Regions from separate parts of the Homo sapiens genome. Here region 2 is linked to region 1. A link means that fine-mapping ties the variant in region 1 to the expression of a gene that starts in the linked region. Tissue or cell type: lymphoblastoid cells. Region 1 holds a variant in brackets; the other region holds the start of a gene. All regions are shown on one strand. Distances are from middle to middle.

Region 1 (5,389 bases):
AGTTCTCACAAGATCTGGTTGTTTAAAAGTGTATAGCACCTTCTTCCTCTCTCTATTCCTGCTGCTCCAGCCATGTGAAGTGCTGGCTTCCCTGTTTCCATCTGCCTTGATTACAAATTTCCTGAGGCCTCCCCAAAAGCAGAAGCTGCTATGCTTCCTGGACAGCCTGCATAACCGTGAGCCAGTTAAACGTCTTTTTCTAATAAATGATTAGTCTCAGGTATTTATTTATGGCAATGTGAGAACAGACTAATACAACGATTTGTAACTGACCAAGTATGCATCAGGAGTGTCCATTCCCCACCGTCTCAGTTGTAGGTGCTGGGTCATACACAGTCAGATTTGACACAGAATCTCCTCTCTTCTACCCCACTAAGTGCTCAGAGGTCGTTTTGATCTTACAGTTAGTTTCTCAAGAATAAACTATAGATGAGCCTCACTCAGAGAAACTGGGTCACAGAGCAAATTCTCATGGCATTGGCCTATTGTCTAGGAGACAGGCTTAAGGGGGCTGTGGGGGAGGTTGGCACAGTGTTTTGACAAATGAGAGATTGACAGTGAATGTCTTAGAAGATTTATTCCACAAAGCTGTTCATCAGTAAAACAATGGTTTTTGCAGCAGATTTTTTTTTTCTCTATTGCCAGGTTCTTTTATAAAGCGTCCTTTCTCTGAGACCATCTTTCTGCTAGAAAAATCCTGATATTCATGTGCTCTTCCTTTAGATATCTTCCTCAGACTCCACTTCTTTCCAGCTAAAAGTCATTTGCTTCTTGACACACACATACACACACACACACACACACACAAATGCATTCTTCTCGTTTCTGTCATAATAGCACTGGAAAACCCATCAGCAACCTGAATAAAAATCCATTAAAACCACAGTTCAAATCATGAGTGACAGAAAAATATTTAAAAAGGTTTTCCCTCTCATAAAGGGCAATGATGGCTAAATAATTGTGCAGTTGATACTTATTGGTGAGGAAGAGAGATACGTACTCTACCCCTAGGAAGAGAGCTACACAGCCCAACCAACCATTCCCACATGCGACCCCAAAATGGGCTGAATTAAATATCTCTGATAAAGCTAACAAAGGAAATGGAATATATAATTTGGCACTTATAGTCTTCTAGTGCTACACATTAGTGTATATACAAAATTTTGCTAAGGAAATATCAAAGGCTTTCATTTCAGTCTCTGAGTCTACATTTTTGACTTCTATGGCTTAATACTTTGTCAATACATGACTTTTAGTTTTCTTAAGTTTCTTATGTCACAGAATCAATGCTTAGTGAAGACTTGTAGAAAGGTTGAAAAAAGGCTTAAGGTTTTTAGTACCAAAAGCTATTTTTTAATATGTTATACTAGCCAAAGAATTTGTCCTAAAAGCATTTATTATCTGTTCCAGGATTCATAAATACCCATTATAATTTTATTGAATTCAGCATATTTTTAAAAATTGAAAAGATGCAATTTTTCTATTTATAACCTAAATACAATCTGTGCATTTAAAAAAGAAAAAAAAAAACAACAACACTTCAAAGACAAGCTGTAGAGGTAATTTAGTCTGTCTGTATTTAAAATGAGCCAAAAGGAAAAAACTACCCAAATACAATTGGCTAATTGCTTTCAATTTGGCTTTATTTCCTTGACACTAATGGAGAAATTCTAACACCTACACAGCTAATGAGTTGGGAAGTTATGAGCTTTTTCTGAGTATGGATATCAAGTTGGGGGAGAAAAAGTTTATTCGCTGTTCAGAGAACAGCAAAGACTGAACAGACGTCATCTATGTCTGTATTTCAGTCTGTTATGTGTCAGGGTGTGTGACCTAGGATCTTGTAGTTTGAAGTGAAACATGGGGGTGCAAAAATATATTGTCAATCTACTGTGCTTAATGTCATGAAAAATGTTCCATCAGAGCCATAGAATAGTCATCTATACAGCAACAATGATGAACAACAATAGCAATAATTGTTAGTACCAACTATGAAATTTTTTTTTATTTTATTATTATTATACTTTAAGTTTTAGGGTGCATGTGCACAACGTGCAGGTTTGTTACATATGTACACATGTGCCATGTTGGTGTGCTGCACCCATTAACTCGTCATCTAGCATTAGGTATATCTCCTAATGCTATCCCTCCCCACTCCCCCCACCCCACAACAGGCCCCGGTGTGTGATGTTCCCCTTCCTGTGTCCATGTGTTCTCATTGTTCAATTTCCACCTATGAGTGAGAACATGCGGTGTTTGGTTTTTTGTCCTTGCGATAGTTTGCTGAGAATGATGGTTTCCAGCTTCACTCATGTCCCTACAAAGGACATGAACTCATCATTTTTTATGGCTGCATAGTATTCCATGGTGTATATGTGCCACATTTTCTTAATCCAGTCTATCATTGTTGGACATTTGGGTTGGTTCCAAGTCTTTGCTATTGTGAATAGTGCCGCAATAAACATACATGTGCATGTGTCTTTATAGCAGCATGATTTATAATCCTAAATATTCTTTATATCCAGGTTCCTTGCTAAGTGCTTTGTAATGTGTTACTCCTTGAGTTCTCACTGAAGAATATAGGTGCAATTGTCCTTACTCTAGTTGAAATCAATTATAATGATCTCTGAGGTAAATATTTTTTCATAGTAAGTGGAAGATCCAGGATTCACTATCATATTTGCCTCAATCCAAATCCCATGTTTCTAATCC[C/T]TAATCCACATCTGCTTACTTAGCCACTGGGGAAGTTTTCCGGAGGAGATACAAGATAGCTAAGTCTGAAAAGTAAAATGAAATCAAGCAGACAAGGACAAGGAAGACGAGTAAGGAAGCTAAGTTAATCAGGAAGAATGTAATTTACACACCAAATGAGGGGAGGAAATTATGTTTTTATGAAAACCAAAGGAATTTTTTGTTATGTGATTACACATTGCATAGAGCAAGTTGCAGACATAAAACTGAAGAGACGGGCTGAGGCCAAATTGTTAGGGGTTCAAATGCCCAACAAGGAAGCTGGAGTTGTCTCAAGTCATAGAAAATTATAAAAGCTCAGATAGAGAAATTGCATGGATGGATTTGCATATTTGATGTGTGTTCCATCAGACCAAGTGGGAGGACATCTCACTGAGCCATTCTCAGGATATCTAATAGAGAAAATGGAGCAAATCTATGAGAAAAGAAGGACTTCACATCAAAATAAAATAAAATAAAATGGAAGAGTTACCAATGTGTTCACACATGAGCTCTGAAGATGGGTAAGGATTAAAAGTGGAATTTTGAAAATCCTCCGTGTAGGAGGCCACAGTTGTACCTGGCTTAGGTCTCAGCAGTGGCTCCCTTGTGTGGTGCAGGACTGTGATTTGGCCTCTGGTCTGCCTGAGGTTGTCTCACTGTTTCAGACAATGAGGCAGAGCCTGGGCATGCTGGGCCTGCCTCACTCTTGGGCATCTGTACTTGGTTCCATTTGACATGTTCAGTCTATACACAGCTTAACAAAGTACTTGTTCTAAGTCAAAATGACTCCTACTTCAGGACTTGGAATCTTCGTTTTCCTTCCAATATGGTTTGGCTGTGTCCCCGCCCAAATCTCATCTTGAATTGTAACTCCCACGTGTCATGAGTGGAACCCAGTAGGAGGTGATTGAATTATGGTGGCAGGTCTTTCCTGTGCTGTTCTCATGATAGTGAATGAATCTCACGAGACCTGATGGTTTAAAAACAGGAGTTTCCCTGCACAAGCTCTCTTTTTGCCTCCTGCCATCCATGTAAGACACGACTTGTTCCTTCTTGCCTTCCACCATGACTGTGAGTCCTCCCCAGCCATGTGGAACTGTAAGTCCATTAAACCTCTTTTTCTTTGCAGTTTCAGGTACGTCTTTATAAGCACCATGAAAGCAGACTAATGAGCCTTCCTACTCCCTACTATAGTTAATGCCTTTTCAAACTGCATATATTAGCTCCAGCACATATATTCAAGGATGGCATTCTTCCCCACTTCCCCAATCAGATGACAGACCCCACACCTACCCTCATAGTCCCACAGTTCCCTATACTGTTCTTCCAAAGTACTAATCACAAGTTCTAATGGTATTTGTAAGAGATTATTTGATGAATGCCTACCTCTTCCACTATACTGCAGCTCTCTGAAGGAAGGGCAATATATGTAGTGTTATTAAATGTGCCTCACAAACCTAGTACATTTCCTGGAACCCAGTATGGACTTAATATATATTCATTAAATGACAGAATGATTTTCCCATTGGTGCCATCTCATTTGACACCATAAAATGAGAATTATACCTTACAAGCTGTGACTTCATTGGTATCTCCCTCATGGTTATATTTTTTTAAAAAAAATCAACTTGAGGATTTAATTTAAACATTGCAGCAAACATCCTTTTGGGGATTTTCATAGTTTGGTCATTCATTCACTCATTCATTCCACAAACAATAATTGAGCACAATGGCTTCCTCTCCAGGGCTCTGTTAGTTCTGTCCACTCTCCAATCTCAGCATTCTACATTTTTTTTCAACAAACTAATCCTACCAGCTGAAAATAAGATGCCAGTATGCCAGTCCCTTGTGGTTTTTACTAAAAATTGCCTGCAAAATGAGACACAGTCCTTTCATGATTTTCATTAGAGAGCAAATTGCTTGTGATACCTTTGGCAGAAATTAAATGGATGTATAGAGGCAGTGCCATCTTATTACGCAGTTGAATTTTTGAGAAAAGAATGGGGTTTGTCAGACCCAAAGTTTCGCTGTTGCTTTAAAAAAATGGCATCAATGATCTCTCAAGTTACTGCATGAGGACACCTAGTCTGAGTGTCTAGTGACAGTTTTTACAAAGAATTTTACCCTGTAATGGTTACACCTGCCTTATTATTGTTTCAAGTGGTTGCAAGGAAGTGTTTTCTTCCTCTTATTTCAAAGGAAACAAAAATATTTTAGAGGTTTGGTATTTGGACATTTCTTTTTTCTTCAGTTCAAAATCCTAGCAAAGAGCGATAATTTGTGGTGTGTTGAAATGAAATGCTGCAATTGAAAGTTGCTTTTGCAGTTTCCCCAATGTGTCATGCTGATGCTAACCTTTTCATAAGGCAATGCTTTGAGGAACTTTGATTGTTAAACAGTGCACTCTGAGCTGAAAGGAGAATTTTGGAGGAATGATGGGCAAAACTGTTTACATATATTTATCTAGAGCATTTGGTGAGTATAATGAATCATATTGAAGTACAGCACTTGTTTAAAATGTTACATACTGTAACATGGGATATTAGTATTTAGAATTGCTCACATGGTTTATGTATCTATATTGTTTTTATGATTGGCACTCTTCAAGAAAGGCTTGAAGTAGGCTTTGCCTATTCTTTACCAATCACCAGATACT
Region 2 (5,389 bases), 12 kb after region 1:
ATTAAAAAGTAAGCAAAAGTTCTAAACAGATACCACCATATATATGGCAAATAAGTACATGTAAAGATGCTCAACATTGGTTGTCATTAGGTATATAAAAATTAAAATAATAATGAGATAACATTGTACATGTATTAAGAGGGCTAAAAACCAAAATATGCTAATACTAAATACTGGTTAGGATGAGGAGCAACAAGAACTCTCATTCATCACCGGAGAAAATGCAGAATGGTACAACCACTCTGATGGATAACTTAGCAGTTTCTAACAAAGCTAAACATATTTTTACCTTGTAATCCAGCAGCTGGGTTCTTAGATATTTACCTAGATGATTTGAGAAATTTTAACTACAGAAAACTTTCACATGAATGTTTATAGAATTTTATAAAATTATCACCAAAAACTGAAAGCTATCAAGATGTTCTTCAACACAGAAATGAATAAACTCTGGTATATCCATACAATGAAATACTATTCAGAGATAGGAAAGAATGAGCTATCAAGCTGTACAAGGACATAGATGATTCTTAAATGTGTATTGCTAAATGAAAGAAGCCAGCATGAAAGGACTGCTGCATACTGCATGATTATATTACATTCTGGAAAAAGCAAACTTATAGAGAGGGTAAAGATATCATTTGAAAGCAGCCTGGGCAAGATGGCAAGACCCTGGCTCTACAAAAAAAATTAAAAATTAGCTGGGCATGGTGGTGCACACCTGTAGTCCCAGCTACTTGGGAGGCTGAGGCAGGAGGATCCTTTGAGCCCAGGAAGTAAAGGTGGCAGTGAGCCATATATATGGTGCCACTGCACTCCAGACTGGGAAACGAAGCAAGACCCTGTCTCTAAAAATGAAAAAATAAAGAAAATAAAGATATCAGTGGTTTCTAGAGGTTCACAGACACAGATTTGAGTAGGTGAAGCACAAGAGATTGCCTAGAGTGGTGAAACTATTCTGTATGATACTGCAATGGTGGATAGATGATATTATGCATTTATCAAAACCCATAAAAGTCTAGAGCACAAAAACTTAACCGTAATGTATGAAAATTTTTAAAAAATTATTTAGGAGGTTAGGAGATCCCAGATACAAGGTAAACTGTGACTATACAACCATCCAATCTTCAACAAGGCCAACAAAAACAAGCAACAAGGAAAGGACACTCTATTCAATAAATGGTGCTGGGATAACTGGTTAGTATGCAGAAGATTGAAACTGGATCCCTACCTTTCACCAGATACAAAAATTAACTGAGGATGAATTAAAGACTCAAATGTACGCTCTCAAACTATAAAAATCCTAGGAAATATCCTTCTCAACACTGGCCTTGGCAAAGAAAATTTGGCTAAGTCCCCAAAAACAATTGCAGCAAAAACAAAAATTGACAAGTGGGACCTAATTAAAGAGCTGCTGCACAGCAAAAGAAACTACCAATAGAGTAAACAGAAAACCTACAGAATGTGAGAAAATATTTGCAAACTATGCATCCAACAAATGCCTAATATCCAGAATCTGTAAGGAACTTACAACAAGCAAAAAACAGAATACATTAAAAAATGGGCAAAGGACATGTACAGACACTTCTTAAAAGAAGACATACAAGCGGCCAACGAACATGAAAGAATGCTTGTCATCACTAATCATCAGGGAAATGCAAATCAAAACCACAATGCTATATCATCTTAAACCAGTTACAATGGCTATTACTCTACAGTCAAAAAACAACATATGCTGGCGAGTCTAGAGAAAAAGGAACATTTATACACTGTTGGTGAGAATGAAAATTAGTTCAGCCACTATAAAAAGCAGTTTGGAGACTTTTCAGAGAACTTAAAACAGAGGTACCATTCAACTCAGCAGTCCCACTGAGACGAGAAGTCTTCTTCTGATGGAAGGTTTTTCTCAATGGAAGCGTTCGTGTCTCACGGGCTTCAAGGAATGAAGCTGTGGACCACAGCAGCGAGTGTTACAACTTGATTAGAGAAACGGGCGGACCCAAAGAGTGTGCGGCTGCAAGATTTGTTAAAGTGAAAGCAAAAGTAAAGTGAAAGCGAAAGTAAAGCTTCTGCGTGGTGGAAGGGGACCCAGAAGGGTTGCTGTTTCTGGCTTGGGTGTCTTATGCTTATATCGCCTTATGACCCCTCCCCTTTTCCTTTTTCTGTCCTATACAATTAGCTTATTTTCAACCCACTTGTGGGTTGATGGGCCTGATTGGTTAAAAACATCAGGCTGTAGCTAGACCTTAAACTCCCTATATGATTGGTTGAAGTTTCAATCCCTTAGCTTGCAGCTGTGACTCATTTTGGCTTAGGGGAAAGTCCCCTTTGATTGGTTGAAGTTTAAATCCCTTAGCTTGCAGCTGTGACTTATTTGGGTTTAGGGGATAGTCCCCTTAGGGAAGTCCCTATTGACCCAGGAAGTCCAGCCAACTTAGCCACTTAGTCCCTCACCATTACTGGGTATATAACGAAAGGAATTTAGGTCATCATACTGGAAAAAACACATGCTATTGTATGTACATTGCCACACTACTCACAATAGCAAAGACATATGTGATGGTTAATACTGAGTGTCAATTTGACTGGATTGAAGGATACAAAGTATTGATCCTGGGTGTGTCTGTGAGGGTGTTCCCAAAGGAGATTAACATTTGAGTTAGTGGGCTGGGAAAGGCAGACCCACCCTTAATCTGGGTGGCACAATCTAATCAGCTGCCAGGTGGCTAGAATATAAGCAGGCAGAAAAATGGAAAAGAGAGACTGGCCTAGTCTCCCAGCCTACATCTTTCTCTTGTGCTGGATGCTTCCTGCCCTGGAACATCCGACTCCAAGTTCTTCAGTTTTGGAACTCAGACTGGCTCTTCTTACTCTTCAGCCTGCAGACAGCCTATTGTGGAACCTTGTGATTGTGTGAGTTAATACTTAATAAACTCCCCTTTATGTATATATGTGTGTTCCATTAGTTCTTTCCCTCTAGAGAACCCTGATACAGATGTTGGTACCAGAAGTGGTCTTCTAGAGGAACAGAATATTAAGGATGTAGTTCTTTCATTGGTTTTGGAATTTCTGGTGTTGGCTGCTTAATATTAGACGCCAAAAATGCTAAGAACTCTACTTCTAATAGCATGGAGAACACTGATAATCCTTGGCATGAACTGTTCGAGAAATATGCAAAATAAATGCATTTGACACTCCTGATTCATCGCTCCTGAGAGGCAAGGATTTTAGTGACTCTACATGTAATACCTTTGACCATATGTGGAGAACCAAGGAACATAATGAAGCTGGTTGGTTGCTCCTAAGTTCAGTGGAAAAAGTGATGAAAGAAAATAATGAACTCAGGGATTCTATCTCCCGGCCTCAGAAGCAGATACTGAGCCTCAAATCTGCTAAGACTGCCCTGAGTGAGAGTCTTATCTTCCTGTAGAGAAAGAGCTGAAATTGTGGAAAAACAGACACAAACCCTTATCATGTAGGCTGACCTGTAATGAAAGATGCATGCACAGCCTCACCAGGTGTCCACTGTTAAAGTGAGCGCTTTGATTAGAAAAGAATGGGGCCCTGCAACTTGGAATGGGGACGTGTGGGAGGACCCTAATGAAGCTGGGGACACTGAGTTTGTAAACTCTGATGAAACTTTTCGGCCAGAGGAAACAGCTTCCCCATCCCCAGTAGAGACAATATCCCCTCCCTGACCCACACTGCCATCAGCCTTTCCACCTTTGTCTGAGGAGATAAACCCTGTGCTGCCTGAGGCAACAGTGATGGCCTCCCTTGAGGCAGTTTCCAGGCAAGGTAAAGTTGATTATCTTCAGGAGCCACCTCCAACACCCCTGTTTCCTTCTAGACCTATAACTAGACTAAAGTCCAGGCGAGCCTCTAGAGGTGAGGTTGAGAGTGTGACCCATGAGATGTTCTACACCCAAAAAGAATTGCTTGAGTTTAAACAGAAATCTGGAGAACAGGCATGGGAATGGATATTAAGGGTGTGGGATAATGGTTGAAGGAACATAGAGTTGGATCAGGCTGAATTTATTGATTTGGGCCCACTAAGTAGGGATTGTTCATTTAATGTTTCAGCTGGGGGAGTTAAAAAAGGTTCTAATAGTTTATTTGCTTGTTTAGCTAAAATATAGATTAAAAGATGGCCTACTACGAGTGAGCTAGAAATGCCTGATCTCCTTTGGTTTAATGTAGAGGAAGGGATCCAAAGGCTTAGGAAGATTGGGATGGTACAGTGGATTATTCACTTTAGACCTACTCATCCCAGCTGGCAGGGTCCAGAAGATATACCCTTGATCAATGCCTTGGGAAATAGATTTGTGAGGGCAGCACCTACATCTTTGAAGAGACCTGTAATTGCCCTTCTCTGTATGTCAGATCTAACAGTGGGAACCGTAGTCACTCAATACAAAATTTAAATACAATGGGAATAATTGGATCCCGAGGTGGCAGGGACCAAGTGGTGGCACTCAACCATCAAAGGCAAGGTGGGCATAGCTACTGTAATGGACAGCAGAGGCAAAGTGACGATCAGAACAGTCTGATTTGTGTAGAGCTCTGGCATTGGCTAATTAATAATGGTGTTCCTAGAAGTGAAATTAATAGGAAGCCTACTGCATTTTTGCTTAATTTATACAAGCAGAAAACTTCTAGGTCGAATGGACAAAAGACTAATTTGAATTATAAAAACAGAGAATCATGGCCCCTCAATCAATTTCCAGTCTTGAGCCAGTTTACAGACCCAGAACCCCTTAAATGAAGATGAGGCCAGGTCCCCTTGAGAAAGAACCCCACTACATTACTTACAATTTATGCTGTGAATCTTTCTCCCATCCTTCCCCAAAGAGACATCTGGCCTTTTACCAGGGTAATTGTGCATTGGGGAAAGGGAAATGATCAGACATTTTGGGGACTACTGTACACTGGCCTGAGCTGACGTTGATTCCAGGGAACCCAAAACGTCATTGTGGTCCTCCAGTTAAAGTAGGGGCTTACGGATGTCAGGTAATTAATGGGGTTTTAGCTCAGGTCCAATTTATGGTGGGTCTAGCGGGTCCCTGGACTCATCCTGTGGTCATTTCCCCAATGCCAGAATGCATAATTGGCATAGATACACTTAGCAGCTGGAAAAACCCCCCACATTGGCTCCCTGACAGGTAGGATGAAGCCTATTAGGATAGAAAAAGGCCAAATGGAAGCCATTACAGCTGCCTCTACCTAGAAAAATAGTAAATCAAAAGCAATATCGCATCTCTGGAGGGATTGCAGAGATTAGTACCACCATCAAAGACATAAAAGATGCAGGGATGGTGATTTCCACCACATCCCTGTTCAACTCTTATTTGACCTGTGCAGAAGACAGATAGATCTTGGAGAATGACAGTGG

Direction of the effects. Positions count from the first base shown, and alleles are read on the strand shown. Sizes are in standard deviations (SD) of each study's normalised expression.
For the expression in lymphoblastoid cells of the gene that starts at base 2,030 in region 2, T is the low allele of the variant in region 1 and C is the other (large effect, 0.82 SD a copy in GTEx).

The links. PIP is the estimated chance that this variant, and not a neighbour inherited with it, causes the effect.
Region 2: it holds the start of LINC02328, and the variant in region 1 is the best candidate, but not a certain one, in a credible set for the expression of LINC02328 in lymphoblastoid cells (GTEx, PIP 0.66).

The regions. Positions count from the first base shown.
Region 1 is chr14:85,943,077-85,948,465 of GRCh38, reverse strand. The region is part of intron 1 of LINC02328 (long intergenic non-protein coding RNA 2328); the gene reads right to left. Among named protein-coding and RNA genes, the nearest start is that of LINC02328, 11 kb to the right of the region's middle. The variant C/T (reference allele first, on the strand shown) is at 2,713.
Region 2 is chr14:85,931,319-85,936,707 of GRCh38, reverse strand. LINC02328 (long intergenic non-protein coding RNA 2328) reads right to left here and starts at 2,030. Exons shown (of 4, transcript NR_110155.1): 1 at 1,847-2,030. RefSeq lists enhancers at 1,916-2,125, 2,496-2,545.